7 linked regions of the Homo sapiens genome follow. Changing the gene in region 1 together with any one later gene gives a genetic interaction. Each region holds a gene or a part of one and is shown in the gene's direction. Other genes may lie near its edges.

The links.
Region 2: changes in VPS72 (region 1) and YTHDC1 together harm fitness more than expected from each alone (negative genetic interaction), as found in Homo sapiens cells (one large-scale study listed by BioGRID).
Region 3: changes in VPS72 (region 1) and MZT1 together harm fitness more than expected from each alone (negative genetic interaction), as found in Homo sapiens cells (one large-scale study listed by BioGRID).
Region 4: changes in VPS72 (region 1) and SLC39A9 together harm fitness more than expected from each alone (negative genetic interaction), as found in Homo sapiens cells (one large-scale study listed by BioGRID).
Region 5: changes in VPS72 (region 1) and PSMD1 together harm fitness more than expected from each alone (negative genetic interaction), as found in Homo sapiens cells (one large-scale study listed by BioGRID).
Region 6: changes in VPS72 (region 1) and LEO1 together harm fitness more than expected from each alone (negative genetic interaction), as found in Homo sapiens cells (one large-scale study listed by BioGRID).
Region 7: changes in VPS72 (region 1) and ERH together harm fitness more than expected from each alone (negative genetic interaction), as found in Homo sapiens cells (one large-scale study listed by BioGRID).

The regions. Positions count from the first base shown.
Region 1 is NC_000001.11:151,179,507-151,184,154, reverse strand, and holds part of VPS72 (vacuolar protein sorting-associated protein 72 homolog), read left to right. Parts: intron 1-4,648. UniProt on the Homo sapiens protein: Deposition-and-exchange histone chaperone specific for H2AZ1, specifically chaperones H2AZ1 and deposits it into nucleosomes.
Region 2 is NC_000004.12:68,325,623-68,330,270, reverse strand, and holds part of YTHDC1 (YTH domain-containing protein 1), read left to right. Parts: coding exon 1-69; intron 70-151; coding exon 152-269; intron 270-4,648. UniProt on the Homo sapiens protein: Regulator of alternative splicing that specifically recognizes and binds N6-methyladenosine (m6A)-containing RNAs.
Region 3 is NC_000013.11:72,707,037-72,710,947, reverse strand, and holds the end of MZT1 (mitotic-spindle organizing protein 1), read left to right. Parts: intron 1-602; coding exon 603-626; 3' UTR 627-2,581; downstream 2,582-3,911. UniProt on the Homo sapiens protein: Required for the recruitment and the assembly of the gamma-tubulin ring complex (gTuRC) at the centrosome.
Region 4 is NC_000014.9:69,404,580-69,409,227, forward strand, and holds part of SLC39A9 (zinc transporter ZIP9), read left to right. Parts: intron 1-4,648. UniProt on the Homo sapiens protein: Transports zinc ions across cell and organelle membranes into the cytoplasm and regulates intracellular zinc homeostasis. Participates in the zinc ions efflux out of the secretory compartments.
Region 5 is NC_000002.12:231,167,752-231,172,399, forward strand, and holds part of PSMD1 (26S proteasome non-ATPase regulatory subunit 1), read left to right. Parts: intron 1-2,814; coding exon 2,815-2,961; 3' UTR 2,962-2,970; intron 2,971-4,648. UniProt on the Homo sapiens protein: Component of the 26S proteasome, a multiprotein complex involved in the ATP-dependent degradation of ubiquitinated proteins.
Region 6 is NC_000015.10:51,964,495-51,969,142, reverse strand, and holds part of LEO1 (RNA polymerase-associated protein LEO1), read left to right. Parts: intron 1-2,638; coding exon 2,639-3,394; intron 3,395-4,648. UniProt on the Homo sapiens protein: Component of the PAF1 complex (PAF1C) which has multiple functions during transcription by RNA polymerase II and is implicated in regulation of development and maintenance of embryonic stem cell pluripotency.
Region 7 is NC_000014.9:69,391,346-69,395,993, reverse strand, and holds part of ERH (enhancer of rudimentary homolog), read left to right. Parts: intron 1-1,081; coding exon 1,082-1,169; intron 1,170-4,648. UniProt on the Homo sapiens protein: May have a role in the cell cycle.

The DNA.
Region 1 (4,648 bases):
GTTATGAGCACTCTGAAGAACAAGCTAAGGTACTTTGGTGTAAAATAAGAGTTGTATAGAACTGAGGTCAAATCCTCGTTCTGCTATTCATTTGCTTTAAGTCTGTAGGTAAATTACTTATTCACATTTTGCTTTTCTTGTTTATAAAATGGGGTATATACCTAATGACTCAGGAAATTTAGGCAGGAGGATCACTTGAGGCCAGGAGTTCATAACCAGCCTGGACAACATAGTGAAACCCCATCTCTTAAAAAAAAAAAAAGCAGGGGGTGATAATGTTGACTTTAATGATAATCATGAGAACGTGAAGTCAGCAGATTAGTCCTTCATGAGATAAATTGCTTTAAAAATCTCTTCATTTTATGGTATTGCTTTAAAAATCTCTTCAGTTTGGGCCAAGCGCAGTGGCTCATACCTGTAATCCCGGCACTTTGGGAGGCCAAGGTGGGTGGATCACTTGCAGTTGGGAGTTCCAGACCAGCCTGGCCAACATGGTGAAACCCTGTCTCTACCAAAAATACAAAAATTAGCTGGGCATGGTGGCGCATGTCTGTAATCCCAGGTACTTGGGAGGCTGAGGCAAGAGAATCATTTGAACCTGGGAGGTGGAAGTTGCAATGAGCCGAGATCACACCACTGCACTCCAGCCAGGGCTACAGAGCGATTGGTTTGGACCACTGTAAGGAGAGTGACTCCCAGGTTTTCCTTTCTTTTTTTTTTTTTTTTTTTTTTTGAGACAGAGTCTTACTCTGTCGCCCAGGCTGGAGTGCAGTGGTATGATCTCGGCTCACTGCAAGCTCCGCCTCCTGAGCTGGAGATTCTCTTGCCTCAGCCTCCCAAGTAGCTGGGATTACAGGTGCCCGCCACCATGCCCAGCTAATTTTTTTGTATTTTTAGTTGAGATGGGGTTTCACCATGTTGGCCAGGCTGGTCTTGAACTCCTGACCTCAGGTGATCCACCCGCCTCACCCTCCCAAAGTGCTGGGATTACAGGCTTGGGCCACCCCGCGGCAATTCCCAGGTTTTCAACATCAGTAACTGGCTTAGGAGACCCTGAAGGAGGAGCAAGTTCAGTGGGGAAAAAACAAATTTATTTTTGAACATGTTGAATTTAAGGAGTTTGTGAGCAATTCATGCAGTGATGAGAGGTCAGTTAAATATGCAAATCTGGTGTTCCAATAAGAGATCTGGGCTGAAAATACAAATTTGGAAGTCTTTAGAATATGGGTGGTAATTGACAATATTGGAGTGCATCTGAGCATGTAGGGAGAAAGCTCAGAGTGAGAAAACAGAGGCCTGATAGAGTCCTGCAGACACTAAAATGTGATAGTTTCATACAAGAGGAGGAGCTTTGAAAAGAGCCTGGAAGTGACCAACGAGTTGGAGAAACCCAGGAGAGTTTGTGTTAAAAATGCCAGGAAAGAGAATGTCTCAAGAGAGTAATTGCTGCTGAGACGATGATTAGTAGAACTGAGAAGTGCCCATTGGTTTTGGTGAGATAGAGGTCAGACATTACCTTAGCACTTTTTGGGGACCAAGTCGAATCAAAGTATATTGGGGAGCAAAACTTTTCAAGCTTGGCCATGAAGGGTAGAAGAGGGAATGGAAGCTACAGAGGGGTGTGAGATTAAGGTAAAGTTGTTTTTATTTTATTCGAAGATATTAGAAATTATGTCTTTCATGAGAAAGAACTGAGTTTAAAGAAAGAGAAGAAAAAACGGTTATTAATAGTGTAGGTTTTTGGAGATGGGAGGCAAGGCTGGGAACCAGAGCAGCATGGTGGAGGAATTGGCTTCAGATGGGGGAAGGGAGAAAGAAAGTGTGGTGGCCGGGCGCCGTGGCTCACACCTGTAATCCCAGCACTTTGGAAGGCTGCGGCGGGTGGATCATCTGAGGTCAGGAGTTCGAGACCAGCCTGACCAACATGGAGAAACCCTGTCTCTACTAAAAATACAAAATATTAGCTGAGTGTGGTGGCACATGCCTGTAATCCCAGCTACTTGGGAGGCTGAGGCAGGAGAATCACTTGAACCCGGGAGGCGGGGGTTGCGGTGAGCCGAGATCGTGCCATTGCACTCCAGCCTGGGTAACAAGAGTGAAACTCTGTCTCAAAAAAAAAGAAAGAAAGTGTGGCTTAGCTGAGTGCAGTGGCTCATGCCTGTAATCCCAGCACTTTGGGAGGCCAAGGAAGGAGGATCGCTTGAGCCCAGGAGTTCAAGACCAGCCTGGGCAACATAGTGAGACCCTGTCTCTGTTTAAAAATGTGGCTTACAGTTGTAGGTTTGTAATCCAGAGGGAGGGCATGGCGGAGGTTCTCACCTGATGTCTTTTTCATTATGCAGCACCATCTGTCAAACATTAAGGATACAGCTGGAAGCTTGAGGAGACTGAGGAGCATTTAAATAGTTATTGATGTGGGATATTGAGCAGTATTGAGGGACCTGCTGAAGGCTAGGACCATGAATTTATGGTGGTTCCAGTCTGTGCTGTTATTTTTCTCCAGTAGCACTCAGCAGTCCAGATCAGGGCAAGGGAATTATTGACAGGAGAGTGACTGAAGTGATTGAAATGATACAGTGAGCAACCTAAGCATGATTTAAAAAGGAAAATGTGACTGGGCGCGGTGGCTCACATCTGTAATCCCAGCACTTTGGGAGGCCGAGGCAGGCGGATCACAAGGTAAGGAGTTCGAGACCAGCCTGGCCAACATGGTGAAACCCCGTCTCTACTAAACATACAAAAAATTAGCCAGGCATGGTGGTGCGTGCCTGTAGTCCTGGCTACTCGGGGGGCTGAGAATCACTGAGGAGAATCACTTGAACCCGGGAGGCGGAGGTTGCAGTGAGTGGAGATCGTGTCGCTACACTCCAGCCTGGGCAACAGAGTGAGACTCAAAAAAAAAAAAAAAGTAAAGTGACATGGAAAAGAAGGTTGTTAGAGATGAGGTGATAAACTGTGGCCATGCAGTGTTGAAGGGGCTACCCATGTGCACTTCGAAGTCACCAGGGTGACCCTAAGATGATGGGAATTGGGGTAGAGACGAAGAGTGGAAACCACTGCCAAAGTCTTCAGTGAATGAAGGAGTGACCATGACTAGGAAGGAGAGAAGTTAATCTAGACTCTTGGCACAGGTCTCAAAAGAGAAGGGAGTTTGCTGGTAGGCAGAAAAGCAGTGCTCTGAAAGCTACAGGGTGGGGCCCAGTAGGACATAGGTATATCCTGTAGGGATGTAAGAGAATGAGCAACCTCCACCAGAGGTCTGCAGAGAGGAGTGGTGGCCTCAGTGAATGACCAGGTTTCTGTTAAGGCAAGTCATGGAAGGAATGCTGAGTGAGGAGCTTGAGGATATAGATGAGTTGGCAGATTACAGAGCACGAGTTCCAGAGGGTGTAGGCAAGTGTTTGAAAGTAGAGGGGTTGGGCCAGGCGTGGTGGCTCACGCCTGTAATCCCAGCACTTTGGGAGGCTGAGGTGGGCGGATCACGAGGTCAGGAGTTCCAGACCATCCTGGTCAACATGGTGAAACCCCGTCTCTACTAAAAATACAAATATTAGCTGGGCATGGTGGCACGTGCCTATAGTCCCTGCTACTCAGGAGGCTGAGGCAGGAGAATTGCTTGAACCTGGGAGGGGGAGGTTGCAGGGAGCCGAGATTGTGCCACTGTACTCCAACCTGGCGACAGAGCAAGACTCTGTCTCAAAAAAGAAAAAGAAAGTAAAGGGGTTGAGGCGTTGGAAGACTGGCTCAAAGGAGAGAAAGCAGTATTATCAAACAGTTCAAGTGCAAGAGAGGTTCAATCATTGGAAGGGTTTCCAGAGTACTCTTTTTTTTTTTTTGAGACGGAGTCTTGCTCTGTCACCCAGGCTGGAGTGCGATGGCACAATCTCAGCTCACTGCAACCTCCGCCTCCCAGGTTCAAGTGATTGTCCTGCCTCAGCCTCCCGAGTAGCTGAGATTACAGGTGCAAGCCACCACGCCCAGCTAATTTTTGTATTATTAGTAGAGACAGGGTCTCACCATGTTGACCAGGTCTGTCTCAAACTCCTGACCTCAGGTGATCCACCCGCCTAGGCCTCCCAAAGTGCTGTAATTACAGGCATGAGCCACCGCACCTGGCCTCCAGAGTACTCTTTTATGGTCAGACTTTAGGGAATTGTGTTCATCATAACCATATTTAAGGACACAGAAATCTGGAGTTCATTCAGAGGAAGGGGACGAGGAATATTTTGATTCATTTTTTTTCGTATGTTTGTTTTGTCTTTGGAGATGGAGTTTCACTCTTGTTTCCCAGGCTACAGTGCGATGGTATGATCTTGGCGCACCGCAACCTCCGCCTCCCAGGTTCAAGCAATTCTCCTGCCTCAGCCTCCCGGTAGCTGGGATTATAGGCATACACCACCACATCTGGCTCATTTGGTATTTTTAGTAGAGACGGGGTTTCTCCAAGTTGGTCAGGCTGGTCTCAAACTCCCGACCTCAGGTGCTCTGCCCACCTCAGCCTCCCAAAGTGCTGGGATTACAGGCGTGAGCCACCGTGCATGGTGATTCTTTTTTTTGAGACGGAGTCTCACTCTTTTGCCCAGGCTGGAGTGCAGTGGCGCGATCTCAGCTCACTGCAAGCTCTGCCTCCTGGGTTCACGCCATTCTC
Region 2 (4,648 bases), on another chromosome or scaffold:
ATCTTGCATTTAGATCTGCAAGGAGTGTTATCTTAATATTTTCTGTCAGAGAGAGTGGAAAATTTCAAGGTAAGAATAAAAATAATTTGGACATATAAAAACATTAATTATATTAGCATCTACATATTATATTATGATATGATTCTCTTAGGGTTTGCAAGACTTTCTTCAGAATCACATCACGGAGGATCTCCTATACACTGGGTGCTTCCAGCAGGAATGAGTGCTAAAATGCTGGGAGGTGTCTTTAAAATTGACTGGATTTGCAGGTAAATTATACACTTCAGTATAGATAACTGAAATTTTGAATACACTACCAGTTTAGAATAATGTGTTAAAGTGAAAAAGTCACTGTATACTTATCTTACCTTGTTCAGTAACTACCTTTATCTAATGTGGGACACAACAAAGGCGTATTTAGTCTAAAGTTACATGTATTTGATTTGTTTTGTATATTAGTAATAAAGCAGTAAATGAATTGGACAGTTGCTTGAAATGTTGTCTGGCGTATCTGTATAATTTTAGTGATTTAACATGTCACTTAAGTTATTGAGGAATGGGAAATAAGTACTATGACTTGGCTAACAATTTCGGAGGTAACTAGTTTAGTCGTGGACAGTATTTTTTAAGGAGGTTAGCAAATGATGTTTAGTTGCCATTGTGATCTTCTGAAACTGAGTTAAGATTTAACTGTATTTATTAGAAAAATAATCAGGCTTATTTTGAACACTGAGTTGTCACTATTTTTAGGTCCTTACTGCACACTGAAGTATTGTACACAAGAAGCTCATTATTTAAGTGATCTTTACGTGGCATACACAAATGTATTACCTGTAAAATTAATTTTAGTTAAAAAGTGTCTGAAAGGAGATGGTTACTTTGTGAGTTTTAAGTTGTTTTTGGGTATTAGATCTTGATGAGCCTGAAGGGGTCGGATGAAAAAGAAGAAAAATGCTATGCATATGATGGAAATCAGCCTAAGCCAAGAAGAGCATGGAAACAAACTATGGGGTTGCAGGGTTGTGGGGAGCAGTGGGAGGGCATATGGATGTGTGAGTGGGATAGGGAGCTACCTTTTTTTATGAAGGAGATGGTTAGGAAAAGAGAAGAACAGAGGGCAAAGATGGATAAGAATGAATGAATGTGAGTCAGCCTAAATGTTTATTGTAGGATAGTGAGGAGCTGTGAAGATAGAGGGAGTGATATATTACAAATAGCATACAGTCACTTACTGTGTAGTGACATACCCATCAACAAAGAATCTTGTCCCATAAGACTGTAGGACTCGTAAGAGGTACCTATAATACCATATTTTACTATACCTTTTCTATGTTTAGATACACAAGTATTTTCCATTGTGTTACATTTACCTACACTATTCAATACAGTAACATGCTGTGCAGATTTGTAGGCTAGGAGAAACAGGTCATACCATATATCCTAGGTATGTAGTAGGCTATACCATTTAGGTTTGTGTAAGTGCATTCTGTGATGTTCACACAATGAAATCACCTAATGAGTGTATCCCTGTCATTAAGTGACACATAACTGTATTAGGTTGATAATAGCGTAGCAAAAAGCTATGTGCAGAAAAAATACTCATCCCATTATTACTTTCTGTGGGAAAGAGTTGGAAATCATCTAAATTCTTTGAAATAGAAAATTAGTTAAATTATAGTTTGTCTCTTAAATATATGTGGAAGTAATTGTGCACATATCAACATGGAAAGGTATAACAAATGAAAAAATACATAATTATGGTATTGGAATGCAGTGTTAGGTGGTGAGACTGTTAGTGCTTTCTCCCACTTCCTCTCTGTTGCCCCCAGGGGTTTTAAAATATAAACTTGGTTTTTTTGAAATCAAAATTATAATTAAGTTATAATTAAAGTTGAAAATCTGGTGACAATTTGTAGGAAAGGGAGTGATTATTTTTATTTTGTGTGTGTATGTGACTGCTCTGTAAAGGCCAGAGGAAACGTTGTAATGTAACATATTTGCAGGTGTTGCTTTCTTGGGAACAGGAGAGAAAATAATTGCCCATTTTTATGTGGGTTGCAGCAGATTTTGTTTCAAATGTTATTTGTTCTGTTAACCTTCATTTTTACATTACTGATAAGGAAATTCTTAATTTTAAGATGAATTTAATTTTTCATGGATTATTCATTCTTCATATTCCTCTTCATTGACTTATTGACTATTCTACTAATTTGTTTGAAATGTATCAAGCAACCGAAGAGGTAGACAGACTCAATTTGTCTATCCTACTAACGTGAGGTGTAAAATTGTGGGCAGTAAAGTGCTTTTATTATTTTAAAGTAAGTTTATGGGTTTACCTAGAAATAGTATTTTTACATAATAAAACTATAGTTTTAATGTTTTAATACTCAAGTTCTATTCAAGTGTAATTTTACAATACTTTACAGTTCTGGAGGGCTTGTGATATTTCTAACATTGATATTTCCTTAGATAAGTCACTTGAACTCTCTTGAGTTTAAATTCTCTCTATATAGTGAGAATTACATTTGAGTCTCAGAACATTTAAATTTAATAAATAGAAATGGTCAGGACTTTGCTATCAACAGTAACTGCTGTTAATATTTTTTTCTTTTGCAGATATAATAATTATTAGATTTATATTTAAGGACCCTTTGGATATAATAATAACTAGACTTAAGCTTTTTTAGGTGTGATCCCTGGATCACTTACATCAGTAGCATCTGACTGTTAAAATGCAGAATCTTGAAACCCACCTCAAACCTGTTAAATTCTTGATGGTTCAGGTAGTTGGTAGGCACATGGAAGATTGGGACCAGATAAGTGTCATGTTTTAGCTGATAAAGAGAGGGAGGCATAAAAAGCGACTTATTAAGGTTGCCACCTGTAATTAGCTCAAAATAAGGCATGATCTATGAAATACTATTCATCCAGAGTTACATTTACTGACTAGGTGTTATATTCCTTTCATGTCCATTCCAAACAACCCATTTCTGTTTTCATTTAGAGTCTCTCCATTTTTCTTTTCTTTTCTTTTGAGACGGAGTTTCGCTCTTGTTGCCCAGGCTAGAGTGCAATGGCGCAATCTCGGCTCACCACAACTTCCGCCTCCCGGGTTCAAGCGATTCTTCTGCCTCAGCCTCCCTAGTAGCTGGGATTACAGGCATGTGCCACCACGCCCGGCTAATTTTTTATTTTTAGTAGAGACGGGGTTTCTCCATGTTGGTTAGGCTGGTCTCGAACTCCCGACCTCAGGTGATCCGCCCGCCTCAGCCTCCCAAAGTGCTGGGATTACTACAGGCATGAGCCACTGCGCCCGGCCTCCATTTTTCTTTTTAACTTTAATCAACAAACCACTGTCCAGCATATAAGAGCCTCTGCATGGCTGGGCGCAGTGGTTCATGCCTGTAATCCCAGCACTTTGGGAGGCTGAGGTGGGTGCATCACTTGAGGCCAGGAGTTCGAGACTAGCATGGCCAACATGGTGAAACCCCGTCTCTACTAAAAATGCAAAAATTAGCCAGATGTGGTGGCGCATGCCTGTAGTCCCAGCTACATGGGAGGCTGAGGCATGAGAATCCCTTGAACTCAGGAGGCGGAGGTTGCAGCAAGCCGAGATCATGCAGCTGCACTCCAGTCTGGGTAACAGAGTGAGACTGTGTCTCAAAACAAAAAACTGTGCACAGTTTTACATTCTTTGTTAAATTTGCCCTATTTGCAGAACCACTTAGGTCAGAGAGTCCCTTACATGTTCTCAAAGAACTCACAGTAAAGATAAGTTGTATCTGTATGCTTCATAACATAGCTGCTCAGAAGGTAACTGTTAGGTTGCTTGTTCTATGATTGTGATCTGAGAAGAAAGGATAAAATAAGGATGCTACATGGATCACAGACCCTGCAATTTTTCTTAATTTATTCTGAGCCCTGTTTTGCCTCAGGCTTCACAGTTTTCTGTGATGTTCTGGCTGAGATTAACTGTGTTGAAACAGTGAACAGATGTCTCTTGAATCTAGTTGGAACCAGTGCCACCAAAGAATCTCAACCCCAAATGATACATTTAGCTTGGCCTATGCTTTTACTTCTACTTGGATCGTGGGTATTTAATTGCTGATATTTAAATAACAGTGATAATCCCATTAATTTATAACCTTCTTATATTTTGGTGGCTGTAGGTTTTCATTTATGCCTTTCCTATAACTGTTTTAAACTGGCAATTAGAAGAAAAATTTAAATTATTCAACAGAATACAAAGAAAACTAGATCTCTGCCTCTGGATATTCAAGCTTTGATGTGGACTTGTTCTAGTCTTTCTACTTCTGAGAGCCTGAAAAGGGGGAAAAAAAATTCAGTATTTTTGACTCACTCTTGATGGGTGAAGTAAGGTGTATATTAGAAAAAGAAACCAAGCTTTTAAGTGATACTTAGTGGATATTTTCATTACTCACTGACCACTCTTCCATGTATATATATATCACCTCCATCACAGAATATACCACCTTGTTAATTTAACTCTAAAATACTTCTATTTCCCTGGAAAATGTCAAAGTTTTTCCTGAGGTTTAAAACAAGTTATATAAGATCTGAGCATTCAGGCCAGGTGTGGTGGCTCACAGCTGTAATCCTAGCATTTTCGGAGGCTGAGGTGAGAGGA
Region 3 (3,911 bases), on another chromosome or scaffold:
AATTATATCTTTTTATATTGATGTTAAGAAATTTTTTAGGTAGGATAATAGTATGGTGATTTGTTTAAGTCTCTAGAAATAATGTATCAAAGTATTTATTGATGATATGGTATCTTGGAATTTCTTCAGAATCACCTGGGAAAGAGTAGTAGTTAGGGATGTAGATGAGACAGGATTAGATAAGATGTTCATTATTCATCTTTTGCTCTTGTTCTCTCTGCCTTGTAGCATGAAAGGTCTTTTTCATTTTTAATCCCTATTACTAGAATAAAACACAGAAACAGACAAACTAATGAAGTCTGTGGCAACAGGTCTGCCATAGGTTAATGTTTCAAGTAGCAGTATGTTTTTTGTGCTCTTAACTATTATTTTAGGTGATATAACTATTTTCCACTGTTAGCCTGTGGACTGTTAACTGTACATTCAAAAGGTAGTCCTGATGTATAGCAAAACATGAAAAGCACTGCATTACTGTGATAAAAGTGGTTCTGTTTTATGGGGAATAGTTGTTTGTTAATGACAGTGCAGTATTGACAAATTTATCTTCATGATGCCTCTTTTTCCATGGTTTTATTGTAATGAATCTTACTTTCTTGTTCTAGGCTGCTGAAAATATGACAAGCTGACTTTCTGGAGAAATTCTGATGAGATATGTCAAGCTCTGCAAGAGGGTTTGAAGATTGCATTGTAGTTGAGAATGTACAATGAAATTACTGCATGCAGCAGTGTAGAAAAATTTTACTTTTTAAAAGAATTATAAAACCATAGCTTTATAAATCAGTGGAAAGTGGCTTACAGAGAGAACTATCAGATGTGTTTACATCACATCTTATTCACTTTTTTTAACAGCTCTAATGCTTTGGCATTGCTATGTTCATATTTATGTATTCCTTATTTATAGCTCTGATAGCTTTAATTTTCTAAGCAGTCTGTCTATCAGATGTGCACATCTGCTGTGCCAGGTTGAAGTATAGTGGAACCCATCAGTAGTAATGTGTAGTAGTTATGACTTGTTGACATTTCCATTATAAACTTTAATTTTGAATTGTTTATGCATTATAACTGTGGATTTATATTGTATTGGGCTGAAAGTTGACAGGATTTCAGCCACCACTTGTGAATTTTTATTTAGATTCATTATGTATATCAGAATCTTGTTTTTTGAAATAAGAGCATGGAAAACATTTCTTGTAATCTACTCTTGAACAAAGAATATTTAGTTTTTCAAACAGTTTGTTGGGCAGCTAATAGTGTGAACCAGGTCATTTTTGTATTGAGTAAAAAAATCAAACTTTGAGAAACTTGGATTTTAAAAGTAATGACAATGCTTAGGTTAGTATTATTTGTAATTTGAATCATTTACATCTAATGAGAATGTTAGTTGAGAATGTTTTCTTAAAGTTTTATATCCTATAAATAACGGAATAAAAAAATTTGTAAAATGAAACAACAAACATGCAAAATTCCTATTTACTTTTATTACATAAAAGTAATTTTAGTGCTTACCTAATAAATCTTGAATGGTTATTTAATAAATTATTAGATGGGTGATGTGTTTCAAAAGATACTTGCTATTTTTTGAAGAAATAAGGATTTCCAGTCATTAAACAAAACTAAACAATCTTATTAGATGGGTGATGTGTTTCAAAGGATACTTGCTATTTTTTGAAGAAATAAGGATTTCCAGTCATTAAACAAAACTAAACAATCAAATGTTCTATATTAGGAATCTCAAGTATGGCTTTTTTTAAAAAACCTTTTTAACATCTTGATGTCAAGGATTATAAGTATGGCTTTTCAGAATTGTTTTGTTTGTCATTATTCTTGCCTTTAAAATTTTAACTCATCAAAGTGAAGATTAGAAATAAATTTTAGAAAATGTAGAATAGTATTGATTCTGTTCCTGTAATAGAATCTCAGTGGAGTTTTTTTGCAAAACTAATATGGATTTCATCTGATTTTATTATTTCTTAAATTTTAGATTTTATTGAGTACCATTTATATGATTGTACAAGCATTCACTCTTTACTAGCATTTTTTGTTTTTCAGACAAGCTGAAGTGGTTTTATTAAGATTTGGTAATATTTAAATAGCAACCTTCTCTGCCTTTTTTTTTTTTTAATATAGAATTTTGACCATTTTGACTTTTTAAATGCCTGGCATCTTTACCAACCAAGTAAACTGGAAGATCTGTTACTGGTAGAACAGGTTGAGGAGACAGTAGGAATTTGTAAAAAGTCATTTGATTTATAATCAACACTACAAATACTATGTGTTATTTATAAAATCATAAAGAACACTTTTGTCAGACTCCAAAATTTGTATATACTTCCAGGCCATAAGAGTTGATAGTATTATTTATGACTTTGTAGATTAAGTTATTTATGTATGAAACAAAGCAGGAAAATATATTGAGAAGGGATCGTGTTTACAGAGGACTTCTTTAAAGTGTCACATTTTTAAAATGTAAACATATTTTTAATGCATACTTAAGTAATATTTAAGAAACTAAACAAAATAATGATACAATTGCAGTGTTGTGCTTGTTGTCAATGACAAAAATAAAACCATTTTGGTGGTATTGGCCTGTACTTTTGTTTTAATATATGCTTTTGTTAATTCAACTTGTGTTTCTATAGGACAAAAGATACAGAACATAAAATTTACCATTTTAACCTTTTTTTTTTTTTTTTTTTGAGATGGAGTCTCACTCTGTCACCCAGGCTGGAGTGCATTGGCATGATCTTGGCTCAATGCAGCCTCCGCCTCCTGGGTTCAAATGATTCTCCTGCCTCAGCCTCCCGAGTAGCTGGGATTACAGGCACCTGCCACCATACCTGGCTAATTTTTTGTATTTTTAGTAGAGGCGGGGCTTCACCATGTTGGCCAGGCTGGTCTCAAACTCCTGACCTCAGATGATCTGCCTGCCTCAACCTCCCAAAGTGCTGGGATTATAGGCATGAGCTACAATGCCCTGCCCTTTTTAACCATTTTTAAGTTTCATAGTTCAGTGACATTCAGAATATTCTTATTGTATTGTAACTATCACTATTGTCCATCTCTTGAACTTTCTTATCCCAAACTGAAACTCTGTACCTGTTTAGCAGTAACTCCCCATTGCTTCCTCCTCCCAGCCCCTGGTAAACAGTTTCCTACTTTTTTGTCAATGAATTTGACTATTCTGGATACCTCATATAAGTGGAATCATATTTGTCCTTTTGTGTTCGTCTTATTTTACACAGCACGTCTCCAAGATCTATCCATGTTATAACATGTATCCAGATTTCCTCTTTAAGGATGAATATGTCTCATATATACATGGGAGACAGGTATTCTTTTATATATATGGTGGACATTTGGGTTGTTTCTACCTTTTGTCTATTCTGAAAAGGCTATTCACAATAGCCACAATGTTATGGGCATTGGTATACAAATAACTGTTCAGGTCCTTGTCAGTTCTTTGGAGTGTATACCCAGCAGTGGAATTGCCAGCTTTTAAACATTTTTTTTTAAGTTTAACTTTAATTCCATAGGCATTAGAGAAAGAAGGGGACATGGTCAAGCTTTTTTTGGGAGTTGCTTTGCTAGTGACATGTAGGCTTGATTTGAGCAGGGAGAGGTTAGAAGCAGAGACTAGTTAGAACACTACTGAGTAACCCAGGCCTCAATGCTCACATCTGGGTAGATTCAAGAGACATTACAAAAAATAAACATAGGACTTAATGGCAGGTTATGGGGAAAATAGAAAAGAAAATAAGGTGACTGAGTTTCTAAGCCTGGGTAACAAAGATATTATCAGCAAATGGAAATCAAGAAGGGAATATAATTTTCCTGGAAAAAAATGATTTTTATTTAAAGAGTATTGTGTTTAACATATATATTAAATCTTAAACCTTGCCAATCTTCCAAAG
Region 4 (4,648 bases), on another chromosome or scaffold:
TTTTATTTGGAAACAGACTTAATAATGGGAAGCTCCTCCCCCTCCTCCCCTTCGCAGTCATGGAAACTTCTCGGCAATTTGTTTGGAATCCAAAGGTCTTGTTGTGGGGTTTGGTTTGCATTACTATTTACCATTCTATTTGGAGAGGCCAGGGCTTTTCCTCTACCCTCCCTGCTTTATACTATTTTTCTTAGTATTTAACTCTCTTTTCTTCATTATACTTACTCTCATTTTAAGCTTTGTTTTGTTCTTTCGTGTTTTAAAGTTTTGTGTCTGTATTAGTCCATTCTTACACTGCTAATAAAGACATTTCTGAGACTGGGTAATTTATAAACGAAAGAGGTTTGATTGACTCACAATTCAGCATAGCTGGGGAGGCCTAAGGAAACTTACAATCATGGCAGAAGAGGAGGCAAACACATCCTTCTTCATGGGGCGGCAGGATGGAGAAGTGCTGAGCAAAAGGGGGAAAGCCCCTTATAAAACCATCAGATCTCGTGAGAACTCACTGTCACAAGAACAGCAAGAACTCACTATCACAAGAACAGCATGACCTCCCACCAGGTCCCTCGCATGGGAACTACAACTCAAGATGAGATTTGGGTGGGGACACAACCAAACCATATCAGTGTCTGATTATAATAACTGACTCATTCATAATAAGTATCTTTAGGGGTTTGAGTTACCCGCAAATCAAAGGTTTATTGTGTCTGAAGAACAGATTTATTCAGTATGCTTCTGCCTCTACAATAGGTTCTCTTTGAAGTAGATTTAACAATGTTACATTTTTAAGGACTTTTATATTGTCTGGTACATTGCTCTTACCCTCTTATGGTAATACAAGAGATTTTATACCTGTTTGGAATTTCATTTGTAAATTCTAAGATTTGAGCCGGGCATGGTGGCTTATACCTGTAATCCCAGTGCTTTAGGAGGCTGAAGCTGGAAGTTTGCTTGAGGCCAGGAGTTTGAGACCAACCTGGGCAACAAGTGAGACCCTGTCTCAGATGAATGAACGTAAATTATAAAATTTTAAACTTTGCAATCTCAGTAAATTTATCCATATCTGGAAAGAAATCATCAGCTTGTCTTTTCTCAGATTGAACTACAGATTATTGTTTCATAAGGATCCTTGATAAAACTAAGTTTGGATCAAATAAAATCCGGTTGCAATATGATTCAATATTATTTTCCTGAAAAACTTTGTTTTCTCCAGGATACTATATTGATAAACATAATTAAGACTTATCTGCATAATAATATTAATAATGTTTATTGAGCTCTTTCTGTATACCAGGCAATGATATGCACTATCTTATTAATCCTCAGGACCAAGACTATGAGATACTGTTAAACCTCACTTTACAAATGAGCAAACTCAGGCTTGAAGAGGTCACAGACTCTGGTAGAGGTGTGATTTGGAACTAAGTCATTTTGATTCCTGTTGCCAAATCAGTCACTTGACTACTAAATGTTGCCTTTCCTAATGAATGCTGTGTAAAGAAGGAATGAAAATAGGATCTACCTAAATTGATGCCTTTAGCTCCCCAAATTAGGAACATCTTTCATACCTTCCACAGTATATCTCATGCTTTCTGCCTAGTCAGTGGAGTAGAACTTGAAACTCCAGAGGTAAACAGTCTCCAAATACCATTGAAACCTATAAGAAATAAGTTAATATGTCTTAGATGCCTTTTAAATTAACACCTGCCAATTTGGAATCTGAAGTAGTTCCTATTGTGAACTATCCAAGATGAATTTCACACTTGACATCCTCACAGGTTAGTCGTAAATTGTGCTGTTCAAGAAGTGACATCCTTTTCAAGAGAAGATGACATGAAATGGATTCAGAATGTTTCTGTATATGATAGTCTTAACCTCTCCTCTAATTAAAGAATTTAATGATGAGACTTTTGTTGAATGATAAGATCCCCTTCAGCTCAGTATGGAATTCCACACTGGGCTGAGCGCAGTGGCTCACGCCTGTAATCCCAGCTACTCGGGAGGCTGAGGCAGGAGAATTGCTTGAACCTTGGAGTCGGAGATTGCAGTGAGCTGAGATTGTACCATGGCACTCCAGCCTGGGCAACAGAGCGAGACTGTCTTAAAAAAAAAAAAAAAAAGTAGTAGTACTAAGTATGAGTACTGGTATTTCTTAAAACCTATAATGAAATTACAGAAATCTCAGTCTTCCTTGAATACTAATATTCAGTTTTTAACTTATTGAAATAAAATGGAAATAAATATTAGTTAGACTGGAAATTCTTTGTTTTTTTTTTTTTTTTTTTTGAGATGGAGTCTTGCTCTGTCGCCCAGGCTGGAGTGCAGTGGCGTGATCTCAGCTCACTGCAACCTCCCCTTCCCAGGTTCAAGCAATTCTCCTGCCTCAGCCCCCCCAGTAGATGGGATTACAGGTGCGTGCCACCATAACCAGCTAATTTTTTGTATTTTTAGTAGAGACAAGGTTTCACCATGTTAGCCAGGATGATCTGGATCTCCTGGCCTTGAGATCTGCCTGCCTCGGCCTCCCAAAGTTCTGGGATTACAGGCATGAGCCACCACACCCAGCCCTGGAAATTCTTACATGGAAATTCATTTTTAAATGAAAAGGTCTTGAGGGTAACTAATAGATAATTACATCAAACTATCTATTGCAAACCCTGTATTTATCTGACGTTAATTTCCTTCCTTCCTTTCTTTCCTTTCCTTCCTTCCCTTCCTTCCCTTCCTTCCTTCCTTCCTTCCTTCCTTTCTTCCTTCCTTTCTTCTTTCCTTCCTTCCAAATTTCACTCTTGTTGCCCAGGCTGGACTGCAATGGCATGATCTTGACTCACCATAACCTCCGCCTCCCAGGTTCAAGTGATTCTCCTGCCTCAGCCTCCCAAGTAGCTGGGATTACAGGCATGCACCACCACGCCCCACTAATTTTGTATTTTTAGTTAGAGACAGGGTTTCTCCATGTTGGTCTCAAACTCCTTACCTCAGGTGGTCTGCCCGCCTAGGCCTCCCAAAGTGCTGGGATTACAGGCGTGAGCCACTGCGCCCGGCCAATTTTCTTTCTTTTTTTTTTTATTTTGAGACAGAATTTTGCTGTTGTTGCCCAGGCTGGAGTGCAATGGCACGATCTCGGCTCACTGCAACCTCCTCCTCTCAGGTTCAAGAGATTTTCCTGCCTCAGCCTCCCAAGTAGCTGGGATTACAGGCGCCTGCCACCATGCCTGGCTAGTTTTGTAGTTTTAGTAGAGACAGGGTTTTTCCGTGTTGGTCAGGCTAGTCTTGAACTCCCGACCTCAGGTGAATCCGGCCTCCCAAAGTGCTGGGATTACAGGCATGAGCCACCGCACCCGGCCCTGCTATTATATTCTTTACGGTTCTCTCTTAGTCAATTCCTCATCATTCTAGTCCCCTTTTATGCTTTTATAGGTATTCCTTTTTTCTTTCTTTCTTATTTTGAGATGGAGTCTTGCTCTGTTGCCCAGGCAGGAGTGCAGTGGTATGATCTTGGCTCACCACAACCTCTCTCTTTGGGTTCAAGTGATTCTCCTGCCTCAGCCTCCCAAGTAGCTGAGATTACGGCTGCCTACCAACACGCCCGGCTAATTTTTGTATTTTTGGTAGAGACAGGGTTTTGCCATGTTGGCCAGGCTGTTCTCAAACTCCTGACCTCAGTTGATCAGCCCGCCTTGGCCTCCGGAAGTGCTGGGATTACAGGTATGAGCCACCATGCCCAGCCCCCTTTTGTAGGTATTCTTTATGTTAAACTTTCTCTCTTCAAATTACTTTATGCTTTCTCTTTGATGAAAGGACCCTGACTGATAGAGGTAGGTAATGGATCATAAAATCAAATAAGGCTGAACAGAGAATTAAGCCTGGAGTAAAATAAGACAGCCCCAGTGTCATGATATATGGCAGCTGACCTTCAGTGTCAGTGCCTGGGAGTCATTAGGGAGAAGTGAGAACTGTGGGCATCTAAAGGGCACATATCATTTGATGACACCAAATCTTCCTATTTTTCCAAAGCTAGAAATCTGGATTTTTATATGAAGTCTCCTGAATTTTATCCTTTGGCTACTTATTCAAATATTGTATCAGTGCGTGGGCCAAACAACCCATGTTTGTGAGTCTACAAGCCTCTAGACTGCCTGATTTCTAAGCCCTCTGAATGTAGAAGGGGTGGGCAAGCAAGTAGAGGAAGTAAGTTACAGCATGGCAGTGGGGATGGGAGAGACAGAAAAACATTTTGAATTATTACACAACGTCAAAGTGCAGTTGTTTAGAATCACTTAGTAGAGGGGAAAACATCTCTATGTTCACATTAAAGACACTATGTTCTCTAATTTGACTATAGTATAATAATTAATGACACATGTCAACTGATATGTCAGGTTCTACGTTGATTTTAACAGTAACCTTGAAAGGGAAGAATTCTTGTCCTGCTTGTAGATAAGGAAACTGGGCCTCAAGTTTAGTAAGTACAAATCCCCTATTTATATAGGCTTTAATTAAATTAACAATTTTTTAAAAGACGCTGTGGAAAATTTGGAAAATACGGTAACGTATAAAAGGAAAATAAAATTATCTATTATCCAACTGTTCAATTAGAATCACTAATAACATTTTTGTTTCTTTTTTTCTATTTGTTTGCATT
Region 5 (4,648 bases), on another chromosome or scaffold:
GACAGTTACATCTAGAACATACGAAAAGCTCCTCCAACTCAACAATAAAAAGACAACCTAATTTTAAAACAGGCAAATGATTTGAATAGACATTTCTCCAAAGAAGATGTACAGATGGGCAAATAAGCACATGAAAAGATGCTCAACATCATTACTCATTAGGAAATGCAAATCAAAACCATAACAGGTGCAGTGGTTCCCACTTACAGTCCCAGCTACATGGGAGGCCAAGGCAGGAGGATTGCTTGAGCCCAGTAGCTCGAGGCTGTAGTGCAATATGATTGTGCCTATGAACAGCCACTGGACACCAGCTTAGGCAACATAGCAAGATCCCATCTCTTAATTTAAAAAGAAACACAAAACCATAAGAAGATATCACATTCTACCCACCAGGATGGCTGTAATCAAAAAGACCGCACAGACAAGAATATGCAGAAATTGGAACCCTCATAGAGTAATAGTGGGAAAGTAAAGTTACAGCCACAGTGGAAAAAAAGAATTTGGCAGTTCCTCAAAAAGTTAAATGTAGTCTTATCATATGACCCGGCAATTCCATTCCATACCTAAGAGAAGAGAAAACTGTGCCCACACAAAAGCTTACACACTAACGCTCATATCAGCATGATTCATAATAGCCATAAAACGGAAACAACTTAAATGTCTTATCAACTGATGAATGAATAATGTGAGATAATAATGGAATATTATTTGACCATAAAAAGGAAAGACTTACTGATATATGCTACAGTGTGTGTGAACCTTGAAAACATTATTTTAAGTAAAAGAAGCCAGACGTAAAAGACTGCATATGGTCTGGTTCCCTTTATGTGAAACATTCAGAAAAGGCAAATCTATAGAGACGAGTTAGATTGGTGGCTACCAAGGACAGGGGAAGGGGAGAATGGAGAGTGGCTGCTACTGGGCCCACAGTTTCTTTAGGTTGATGCAGATATTTTTGAATTAGATAGCAGAAGTATTAATAGCTGCACAAGTTTGTGAATGTACTAAATTGTACGCTTTGAGAGAATGAATTTTATGTTAATATATCTCATTTTAAAAAAGAAAACACTGCCTCTGTGTATGTGCAGTGACTCACTCCCCTACCCTCAGTGGCAAGGTCATGGGACCCTTCCTCAGACACTGCATTTGAAAGAGGCAGCTGTAGTTTTGGAAACAAGTAACATTCCTACCCTGCTTCCTGTCCACCATGAGGCAAGAGGAAGTGTTTCATTGCCTATATCTACAGTTGTAATTAGCCTCCCCAGAGAACAGAAAATCGTATATCTTATGCATAGAGGGTGTGAACTTTCCCACCAACATGTAAAGCATTAACAAACCTAGACCATGTATAGCTATAAACAGCCCTTTCCATGTGTTGATTTGGATTATTAGTTTTGGGATTTTTTTTTGTGTGTGTGTTACTGTTGTTTTTGTATGATGAGGCCTTCCTTTGATTAAGTTGGATTATTTCATTCCAGTTAAGCATGAAATAGCATAACCTGGATCCACATTTTCCAAAAAATAGAAAGTCCTCATGTGAACGTGGATATTTTCTTCTGTTTGGTAGGAGATTCATCTCCATTTGGTCCATTAGGTTCAAGTAAACTTTTAGGCTATGGAGGATTAGGACAGTGGCCCTATGCTCCATTCTGGGAGTATTGGCAGTAAGGGCAGGGTCCATTCATAAAATGGATCCTCTTCAAGGAAAGCAAACTTTTTAAGGGAAGGGGTTGTAGAAAAATGTATAGATATGTGTGTGTCAGGAGAAGGGAAATAGTTCGGAGTTCACGAAGCACACCAGTTTTATAGCATGGCAGGGCAGAGTTCTGATGAGTAAAAATTGGATTAGGTTGAACTGCAGAGATGCTTATACATACGTGAATCATTTAACTAATGTACTTGTGCTTCTTTTCCTTCCCAGTAATGTGCTTTGGTAGAAATATGCTTTTTCCAGATGTGCCCTGCCACTGTTGACTGATTTAATTACATAGAGCAGCTTTCCATTTCCTTTGACACAGGCAAGCAAATAGAATAAGATTAGCACACTAGAGAGGGGTGAATAGTTTAGTGTTTGAATTTACCTTCTGTAATATGTTTGGGAGAGGGCTTAATAGAATTGCTGCTACAGTCTACTTCCCTTTTGTTTCCCATGTATTTTTTCATCGGCTTGCATCACGTGGATTTATAGATTAAAGTGAAAAACCCGGGATATCTGTGTTATTCTCTCCATCATTCTGAAATTGCTGGAGAAAAAATTGGCTTTTAATTTATACACTCTCGTGTTCAAAATGATTATCATCTCACAAATCATACAGTGTGCATTAGACTGCTTCTCAAACTTCAGTGTGCATCAGATTGACTGGGATCTTGTTAGAATGCAGATTCTGCAGATCTAGGGTGGGGCCAGCTTTTCTGCATTTTTAACAAGCTCCAGATGATAATGATGCTTCTGGCCCAGGACCATATCTTGAGTAGGAAGGAATTAGGATACTATATTTGGACAGTAAACATTCTTCCTGCAGTGAGACTGAGGCTGGTAGTCAAGGCCATGGCTGGGAAATAACTATTCTTAAATTGGGATGCATCATCCAAGTAGAACAGCATCACATGTTATACCATCTAGAGCTACTGGGTTAAGTTTGCAAATACTTCGTATAGATCACAGTTATCTTTATCCCAGTAAAGTTCTACTCCAGTTTTTCACTTCCAAATCATTTAAGTAGTTTTAAAGTACCATTTAACAAGTATTTACTCTAGATTGTGGAGCACGCTTGAAATATGAGTGTACGCTTCTGCACGCCCCTGTGTTTCCAGCTCTCTATTGGAGGCATCATCATTCTGAAGGATACCAGTGAAGACATTGAGGAGCTGGTGGAACCTGTGGCAGCACATGGCCCAAAAATCGAGGAGGAGGAACAAGAGCCAGAACCCCCAGAACCATTTGAGTATATTGATGATTAAGGGCCAGAGGTGCGTGTGCAACAAAATTATGAAGGGAAACTTCTTTGTCAATACTTCACAAATGTTTTTTGCAAGGACATCATCTCACGTTTTTCCTTCCTTTTGTGTTTAATCCTTATTTACCTAAACAGTATTAAAACTTCCCCGTTTCAACCTTTTTCTGCATATATAACCACAAATTCCTTTTTCTTTCCTCTTTGACTCGTACTCTACTCACGTTATTCAAAGTGGCTGGTCTGCAAACTATTTTTATAGGTCCATAAGGAGATAGGAAGCTTACTCCAGAATCTGTCTGCTCAACGCTTCTTTCATCAAGAAAGTCTTCCCCAAAACATCAGCTGAACTGCAGTTTGCTTAGTGATAGAGCTGATTTACATTCTGATGTAAGCTTCTTGTTGTGGATCAGTTATAGTTGTGGACTGGCACTGGCCCATAGGTGACACTTTTGAGTAGCACAAATATAGGCTTCTCACTGATTTTTCTCTCTCCCCATCTCCTTCGACAGTATTTTTGGCATAGAAGCCTTAACATTCATTCATTCTATGATGGTGCTATTGAATATCTACTGTGTATAAGACATAGTGCTTATAGGGACTTTGAGGTCAGTTAGACTAACCACAAGGCTGTGTCCATTGACAAAGATCATTTACTATATCAGTGTCTTAACAGTGTTGAAAGGGGTCTTTAGATGGGAAAGTTTGGAGTAATCTAATTTCATGAAATTGTCGTTCTTCATTTCCCCATTTTCTTTTGAGTGTTCATCACATATTTGAAGACATTGTGAGACATAATCAAGGTTTCCTAATTCCACCCAAGCACAAACACGTTTTCAGACAATTTTTTTTTTTTTTTTTTTTTTTGAGACGGAGTTTCGCTCTTGTTGCTCTTGGCTGGAGTGCAATGGCGCAAACTTGGCTCACCGCAACCTCCGCCTCCTGGGTTCAAGCGATTCTCCTGCCTCAGCCTTTCGAGTAGCTGGGATTACAGGCATGCGCCACCACACCCGGCTGATTTTGTATTTTTAGTAGTGACAGGGTTTCTCCATGTTGGTCAGGCCGGTCTCAAGTTCTGGACCTCAGCTGATCCGCGAACCTCGGCCTCCCAAAGTGCTGGGATTACAGGTGTGAGCCACCACGCCCGGCCAATTCATTCTACTCTTTAAAAAAAATAAGGACAGTATCATTTGTTATATTTAAAGGTCTGGTTGCAAATCTAGCATGCTGTGTGTTAGATACTGACTAGCAATTTAGGAAAGATTTGCAGAAATCTCAGATAAATATTAAGGTAGAAACCTGCCATTAGTAGGAAAATATATTTATACCTCAGGAAGACTATTAGTTTGGGCCTTAGAGAAAGGCAGATTTATACTAACCTTCCTATTTTCTAAACTTACTTTTGAAAATTATCTTTCAGCCTTGATAGTTTCCTAAGCTTTACCCAACTTGCACAGTACAGCGTAGGCTATCATGATCACTCAGTCTGTCTGAGAATTGAGGTGACTCACGTTAGCTCCCATCAAGCCTTTGGCAATACCTCATGGAAAACCCTTGATTACAGCTTTCAAGGCAGTTAATTACAAAATGACTTAGAGGTTTATAGCTGGAAACTGGAATCTTGTTAGTTTTCAAAGGGGTAAAATATTCAGTCCATTAGGAGTTTGGAAACTATAATCTGTCGTGGCACAAAC
Region 6 (4,648 bases), on another chromosome or scaffold:
TACTAAAAATACAAAAAAATTAGCCAGGTGTGGTGGCGTGCGCCCATAAACTTGGGAGGCTGAGGTAGGAGAATCGCTTGAGGGAGGCAGAGGTTGCAGTGAGCCAAGATTGCACCACTGTACTCCAGCCTGAAGGATAGAGCGAGACTCTGTCTCCAAGAAAACAAACGAACAAAAAACACAAAGAAATTGGTTTTATTGTTGAGTTATAAATGTTCTTTGTATATTTTGGATAAAGACACTTATCAGATACATGGTTTGCAAATATTTTCTTCCATTCTGTAGGTTGTTTTTTCACTTTCCTTTTTTTTTTTGAGACGGAGTCTTGCTCTGTCGCCCAGGCTGGAGTGCAGTGGCGCAATCTCGGCTTACAGCAACCTCCGCCTTCTGGGTTCAAGTGATTATTCTGCTTCAGCCTCCCAAGTAGCTGGGACTACAGGCATGCACCACCACGCCTGGCTAATTTTTGTATTTTTAGTAGAGATGGGGTTTCACCATATTGGCCAGGCTGTTCTCAAACTCCTGACCTCGTGATCCACCCACCTCAGCCTCCCAAAGTGCTGGGATTACAGGCGTGAGCCACTGCGCCTGGCCTTCACTTACTTTTTTTTTTTGGAGACAGAGTCTCCCCTTTCATGCAGTGGCACGATCTCGGCTCACTGCAACCTCCGCTTCCTAGGTTTAAGGGATTCTTATGCCTCATTATTCCCAGTAGCTGGGATTACAGGCGTGTGCCCCCATGCCCAGCTAATTTTTGTATTTTTAGTAGACAGGGTTTCACCATGTTGGTCAGGCTGGTCTGGAACTCCTGACCTCAGGTGATCTTCCCACCTTGGGCTCCTAGAGTGCTGAGATTACAGGCATGAGCCACCGCACCCAGCCAAAAGATTTTATTGTCCTCTAAGACATTAACCAGTTTTGAACTTAACTTAGCAATATTATGTATTTATTTATTTATTTGAGATGGAGTCTTGGTCTGTTGCCCAGGCTGGAGTGCAGTGCTATGATCTTGGCTCACTGCAACCTCCATCTCCTGGGTTCAAGCGATTGTCCTGCCTCAGCCTCCCAAGTAGTGGGCTCACAGGCGTAAGCCACCATGCCTGGCTAATTTTTGTATTTTTAGTAGAGATGGGGTTTCACCATGTTGGCCAGGCTGATCTCAAACTCCTGACCTCAGGTGATCCAGCCACCTTGGCTTCCCAAAGTGTTGGGATTACAGGCATGAGCCACTGCGCCGGGCCTACTTTCTTAATAACGTCCTTTGCTGCACAAAAGTTTTTCATTTTGTGGAAGTCCAATTTATGTTTTCTTTTGTCTTCCATATCGTCTTAGTTTTTGAAGCATAATTTTACTGAATATAAAATTCTTGGTTGACAGTCTTTCTTTTTAGCACTTTGAATGTGTCCTCTTATGGATGGCTCTGGGATTCCTTGGTTTCTGATGAAAAATCAGCTGTTACTCTTATTGAGCGTTCCTCATATGGGATGAACTGCTTCTCTTTTGCCCGCTTTTGGAATTGTTTCTTTGTCTTTGACAGTCTGATAACAATGTTTCTAGGTGTAAACCTCTGTAAGTTTATCCTACTTGTCATTTGTTGAACTTGTTGGATGTGTAGATCTATATTTTTCATAAATTTGGGAGTTCTTCAGCTATCATTTATTTATTCTTTTGAGACAGAGTCTCGCTTTGTCACTCAGGCTAGAGTGCAATGGTGTGGTCTCGGCTCACTGCAACCTCCACCTCCTGGATCCAAGCGATTTTCCTGTTTCAGCCTCTCAAGTAGCTGGGATTACAGGCTTGCGCCACCATACCTGGCTAACTTTTGTATTTTTAGTAGAGATGGGGTTTTGCCATGTTGGCCAGCCTGGTCTCGAACTCCTGACCTCAAGTGATCTGCCCGCCTTGGCCTCCCAAAGTGCTGGGATTACAGGTGTGAACCACCATGCCTGGCCTCAGCTATTATTTAAGAATCTTTTTCTGCTCATTTCTCTTCTTCTGAGACTCCATTATGCATACATTGGTATAACTTAAGGTGTCCCATAAATCTTCTAGACTCCGTTCCTTTCTCTTTATTCTTTTTTCTTTCTGTTTCTCAGATTGGACAGTCGAACTGAGGTATCTTCAAGTTTACTGATTCTTTCTTTTTCCTGCTCAAATCTTTGGTTGAGCCCCTCTAGTGACTCTTTGATTTTAGTAAATATATTTTTCTTTTTCTTTTTCTTTTTTTTCTTTGAGACAAAGTCTCACTCTGTCGCCCAGGCTGGAGTGCAGTGGCTTGATCTCCGCTCACTGCAACTTCTGCCTCCCGGGTTCAAGTGATTCTCCTGTCTCAGCCTCCTGAGTAGCTGGGATTACAGGCATGTGCAACCATGCCTGGCTAAATTTTGTATTTTTAGTAGAGACAGGGTTTCGCTATGTTTGTCAGGCTGGTCTCGAACTCCTGACCTCAGGTGATCTGCCTGCCTCGGCTTCCCAAAGTGCTGGGATTACAGGCGTGAGCCACTGCACCCGGCCTTAGAATGTTAATTCTAACAGTTTTTGCCAGTTTCTTCATTGCTTTTATGTTGGGATGGACTTTGGGACTGCCTTACTCTGCCTTTTTTTGCTTATGTTATCCTATGTTTATATGACCCCATAGATTCTGATTCTGGATCTGACTCAGATTCTGATCAAGAGAATGCTGCCTCTGGCAGTAATGCCTCTGGAAGTGAAAGTGATCAGGATGAAAGAGGTGATTCAGGACAACCAAGTAATAAGGAACTGTTTGGAGATGACAGTGAGGACGAGGGAGCTTCACATCATAGTGGTAGTGATAATCACTCTGAAAGATCAGACAATAGATCAGAAGCTTCTGAGCGTTCTGACCATGAGGACAATGACCCCTCAGATGTAGATCAGCACAGTGGATCAGAAGCCCCTAATGATGATGAAGACGAAGGTCATAGATCGGATGGAGGGAGCCATCATTCAGAAGCAGAAGGTTCTGAAAAAGCACATTCAGATGATGAAAAATGGGGCAGAGAAGATAAAAGTGACCAGTCAGATGATGAAAAGATACAAAATTCTGATGATGAGGAGAGGGCACAAGGATCTGATGAAGATAAGCTGCAGAATTCTGACGATGATGAGAAAATGCAGAACACAGATGATGAGGAGAGGCCTCAGCTTTCCGATGATGAGAGACAACAGCTATCTGAGGAGGAAAAGGCTAATTCTGATGATGAACGGCCGGTAGCTTCTGATAATGATGATGAGAAACAGAATTCTGATGATGAAGAACAACCACAGCTGTCTGATGAAGAGAAAATGCAAAATTCTGATGATGAAAGGCCACAGGCCTCAGATGAAGAACACAGGCATTCAGATGATGAAGAGGAACAGGATCATAAATCAGGTAATACATTTATGAGAACCAGAATGGCTCAGAAAGAAGCATTCAGATACAGCAGGGACCCATTTAGTCTTTATTCCCATCTTTATTACCCTGTTTTTTCTCTTCTGTCCCCTCCCTTTCAAACTTTTCTAACTCTAGAATACATTTTGCTTCTTTTAAATCTTTCTAATCCACTTATTCTTTCTTACTCCTTTCCCTTCCATTTGTTAATGGATAGGTCTGGGGGAAAACAATTTAAAGAGGACTTAAAATTGAGTCTTAGAGGGAGGGATATGGTGTAAGAAGAGCTGATAATGAGTTAAGTTGATTCCATTTCTGTGGATAACTGAAGAGCATGCCTCATGTGAGAGAATAGATTAGCCTGGGGAAAAAAACCATACCATTGAAGTGTCCCCACAGAGCAGCTGTACTGAGATGTGGGCACCATTGCTGCAGCTCAGCTTTTTGAGATCCAAAATTTGATCATCCAGAGATGGTCAAGCTCTAAGGAGTTTACTCAAACTAGTCAAATTTACAAGATATTAATGTATAAAATTGAATTGCAAAATTGTTTCAAGAGGATCAGTTATTTCTCCCTTATCACCCCATATGTTTCCCCGGGGGCAAATCTAGCGTGGATGGCAAATTATAATAATCAGGAGGTTGCCCAGGGAGTATAATATGTAGAAAGTGCAAACATGGCTGGGTGATCTCAATGGACAGTGTTACTGAGCCAAGACAGATTGATGGGTGTATCCTCACCCTACAGAGACGAGCTTGGGTTACAGCACTCATTCCCTAAAGACTACAGGAGGCATACACCTGAACTTTGGTTCCTGGACCTGCTTTTATCATTGCCATTTAGACTATTCTGCTCAAGTTAACACATTCTTCATATAGAATGTACAAAAAATTAGAGATCATATTTCTTTGTATTATATAAAAGTTACCTTAATTAAGTTGAAGTCTTCCTGAAATACCTGGATTGCTTCATTTCCATAGGTGATTGATTATATTAATTATATTTTGATCCTATCTTCTTAGCTTAAATATGAGGGCATCTAACACACACCTCACAGGACAGGATTCAGAAACCACATCTTGGTGTTATTAGAAGAGGAGGGCAGCATATTTCCAGAGATGAATATAGATCTGTGTAGACTATGGGACTGCAGTAAGTTTTCAATAACTAATTCAGAGTAGAGGTTTTTTTTTTTTTTTTAACACTTTAAGTTCTAGGGTACATGTGCACAACGTGCAGGTTTGTTACATAGG
Region 7 (4,648 bases), on another chromosome or scaffold:
AAAAGGTAATAGAGCCCACGTTGAGAAAACACTGAGATTGATTTGTTAGTGACTGATCACTAACAAAAACATGTTTCCCAGTGAGCACGAAGTGGAAGACAAGTCTGTCTGCTATGGGCATTATTTCACATTTCTCATAGTGTGATGACCTAACTTTCTGTGTGATTCTAATATGTGATTTTGGTATGAGAAAGCCCAGTAAGGCAAGTCATCTACTAGGTGAATAGTTTAATGGATTTTTAAGGGTAATTCTTATGATATGTTTATATTGCTAATTTATCTACTGCTTTAATGTTAAGTCTAACCCCTGGATAAAATGTGACTTTGCTCTTACGCTGAGGTTGGAAAAAAAGCTTAAGTTGAAACCATGCTTGTGATTATTATACTATTTCCCCTTTTGTTTCCTTTCATCAGCCCATCTGAGTTTTTATTAGTGACTTAAGAGCATTAAAGATGGAAAGTGACCACTGGAGACAGAAAACCTAAGCAGGTTTATAATTTAGTTGGGAAGAAAAGATAGAAAAGGAAAAGGAGGGCAAGGTAGCTTATACTGATTACTTGTAGGCAGTAAGTACGGTAGGACTGGGAGACTTAGGGAGACCGTACAGCAGAGTTGTGAATCCAGCTAGATACTATACTTAGACTAAGACATCAATATTTTTGTGGGAAAAGTATCCTAATGACTTTTTTTTTTCTTTTAAGAGATAGGGCCTCACTCTCCGATGCAATGGTGTGATCATGGCACACTGCAGTCTCAGCCTCCTGGGCTCAAGGAATCCTCCTGCCTTAGACTTCCAAAGTGCTGGGACTACAGGCATGCACCCGGCAAATTTTATTTTTTTGTAGAGACAGGGTCTTGCTATGTTGCCCAGGTTGGTCTCAAGCTTCTGGCCTCAAGTGATTTTCCCCCTCTCAGCCTCCCAGAGGATGAGGATTATAGGCATGGGATGCCATGCCTGGCCTCTCTAATTACATTTTAATAACTAGCAATCATTATTGCATTACAAATGGGGATTTTTTTTTATCATACTATGAATTTCTCAAATAGAAACTTATATTGAAATCATGTTTTCCCCTGCAGTCTCACACCATTTTGCTGGTACAGCCTACCAAGAGGCCAGAAGGCAGAACTTATGCTGACTACGAATCTGTGAATGAATGCATGGAAGGTGAGTTTAACACTAATCAAGGGGTAGAAAAATGTCTCATTTAGGAACTGGGTTTTTCCCCTCCAAATTTTTTTTTTTTAATAGTCCATCCACCCCAGGCCCTGCCTTTATCACTTCCAACCCTCCAAATTTATTGAATTGCTAATTTTAGGAGGGAAAGCAGATATTTAGGATGGACCATAATTATTGAACATTTTATTTATTTGTTTGTTTATTTATGTATTATTTGAGACAGAGTCTCGCTCTATCACCCAGACTGGAGTGCAGTAATGCGATCTCGGCTTACGCAACCTCCGCCCCCCAGGTTCAAGTGATTCTCTTGTGCCTCAGCCTCCCAAGTAGCTGGGACTACAGGCATGGGCCACCACACCCAGATAATTTTTTGTGTATTTAGTAGAGATGGGGTTTCACCATGTTGGCCAGGCTGGTCTCGAGCTCCTGACCTCAAGTAATCCGCCTTGGCCGGTTGAACATTTTAAACATTAATTATGTATATAGTATCCTCCTTGCTACAAGTATTAGGTGTTTTTTTTTTTTAAACTAATGTATATAATGAGTGACTTTCCAGAGCTGCTTGTTGTTTTATAAATATTCTCTTCTTATTTGTCACATGTTATTTTGTTACAGTATGGAAATATTTTACAGGTATCCCTTATATATTCTGGTTAAGCTCAAACACTATAGGCTTGTGTGTCTGTCTGTTTTTAATAGGTTGTTTTAATAGATTTAAGGGATACAAGTGTAGTCTTCTTATATAGATATATGGCATAGTAGTAAAGTCTGGGCCTTTTTTTTTTTTTCCTTAAGACACGGGGTCTTGCTCTGTCACCCAGGCTGGGGTACAGTGGTGATAATGGCTTATTGCAGTCTCAGTTTCCTGGGCTCAAGCAGTCCTCCTGCCTCAGCCTCCCAAATAGCTGGGACTAGAGGCACCTGCCGCCACACCTGGCTAATTTTTTGGTTTTTTTATAGAGATGGGGTCACTGTGTTGCACATGTTGGTCTCAGACTTCTAGCCTCAGGCAGTTCTCCTGCCTTAGCCTCCCAAAGTTCTGGGATTACAAGCATGAGCCACCGCGCCAACCAAGTCTGGGCTTTTATTGTAGCCATCACCTGGTGTACATTGTACGCAGTAGTGATTTTTCATCCCTCACCATTCTCCCACCTTTTGTAGTCTCCAGTGTCAGTTATTCCACTCTGTCTGTCCATGTGCACACATCATTTAGCCTCCACTAATAAATGAGAACATTAAATGTTTGACTTTCTGAGTTACTTCACTTGAGATAATGACCTCCAATTCCATCCATGTTGCTGCAAAGACATGGTTTTATTCTTTTTTTAATAGCTGAGTAGTATTCCATGGGATGTGTGTGCATGCATTCTCATACACCACATTTCCTTTGTCTAGTCATCCATTGATGGATACGTAGTTGATTCCATGACTTTGCTGTTGTGTATAGTACTGCCGTAAACGTATGAGTGCAGGTGTCTTTGTTTCTTTTTGTTTTTTGAGACAGAGTCTCACTCTGTCGCCCAGGCTGGAGTGCAGTGGTGCATCTCAGCTCACTGCAACTTCTGCCTTCTTGGTTCAAATGATTCTCCTTCCTCAGTCTCCTCAGTAGCTGGGACTACAGGTGTGTGCCACCACGCCCAGCTAATTTTTGTATTTTTAGTAAAGACAGGGTTTCGCCACGTTGGCCAGGCTGGTCCCGAACTCCTGACCTCAAGTGATCCACCCACCTCGGCTTCCCAAAGTGCTGGGATTACAGGCGTGAGCCACCACTCCAGGCCATCTACTCTAATTCTTAAAGAAGAACATGGCATTTTTTTCTTCATCTCTTTACAGATCCATTTCTCTGCTGACATTTCTGCCTGCTATTGATGTAGATTTTGTATGCAGGCTCTCTTAGCAAATTGTTACCTAACCTACATTATCATGTTTGGTCTTTGATTCTGCAATACTCTTATTTCTCAGGGCAGTTTCAGGGTTCTAGAAAAATTGAACAGAAACTACAGTTTTTCCGATATTACTCTCTTTCTTCACCCCTACACAATTTCCCCTATTATTAATGAATTTCACTGGTGTGGTGCATTTGTAACAGTGGTGAACCAGTATTCATTACTGATACATTGTCATTAAGTAAAGTTCATAGTTCATACTAGGTTTCATTCTTATGTCCTACATTACTGTGGATTTTCCCAAATGCGCAGTGTCATGTGTCCGCCATTACAGCATCACACAGAATGGTTTCACTGCCCTGCCCTAAACATTTCTTGTGCTCTACCTATTCATCCCCTCCTACCCCACCCTCAACCTCTGGGAACCATTGGTCTTTTTACTGTCTCCATAGTTTTGTCTTTTCCAGAATGTCATATAGTTGGAATCATTATCGTGTGTGGCTTTTTCTTAACTGGCTTTTTTTACTTAGCAATGTGCATTTATTATGTTTCCCCCATGTCTTTTCATGACTTGGTAGCTCTTTTTCTAAAAATTAAAAGTGGTGATTTATTTCCCATTTAAAAAACTAAAACAAAAAAATGTTAAAATAATTATTAAATAAGTTCTCACATGATGTGGTTGCCAAATGGTAATTTTATTATTCTTTTTTTTTTTTTCTTGTAGTAAATATTCCCCTGTAGATCAGAGCATTTTTTTCCTCCCCCCTTTTTTTTAAGAGCAGTTAAAGACTTTATTTAAGACCATGTTTTTAGAGCAGTTTTAGGCTTATGGGAAAATTGTTTGGAAAGTACAGAGCTCCAGCATACGCCTTCTTTCCTCCCCTTCTTAGTTTCCCCTATTAGTGCATCTTCTATTAGTCTGATTACACTTGTTGGGATTGGTGAATTAATATTCATAGATTATTATTAACTAAAGTTCGCAGTTTATGTTAGGGTTTACTGTATGTGTTGAACATTCTGTGGGTTTTGACATGTATAATTACGTGTATCTACCTTTACTGTATCATACAGAGTAGTTTCACTACCAGAAATCCCCATTGCTCCACCTATACCTCCTTCCCTGCCACCACCCCCAAACCCCTGATCTTTTTACCATATCTGTAGTTTTGCCTTTTCTGGAATGTCATGTTAGAGTTACGGAGTATGAAGCCTTTTCAGACTGGCTGCTTTAACCTAGCAATATGCTTTTTTTTTTTTTTTTTTTTTTTTTTTGGCGTGCGAGACAGAGTCTTACTCTGTCACCCAGGCTGGAATGCTGTGACGTAATCTCAGCTCACTGCAACCTCTGCCTCCCTGGTTCAAGCGATTCTCCTGCCTCAGCCACCCAAGTAGCTGGGATTACAGGCCTGCGCCACCATGCCTGGCTACCTTTTTTTGTATTTTTAGTAGAGACGGGTTTTACTGTGTAGGCCAGGCTGGTCTCAAACTCCTGACCTCAAGTGATCCGTCCACCTCAGCCTCCCAAAGTCTGGGGATCACAGGCATGAGCCCCCATGCCTGGCCAACCTAGCAGTATGCTTT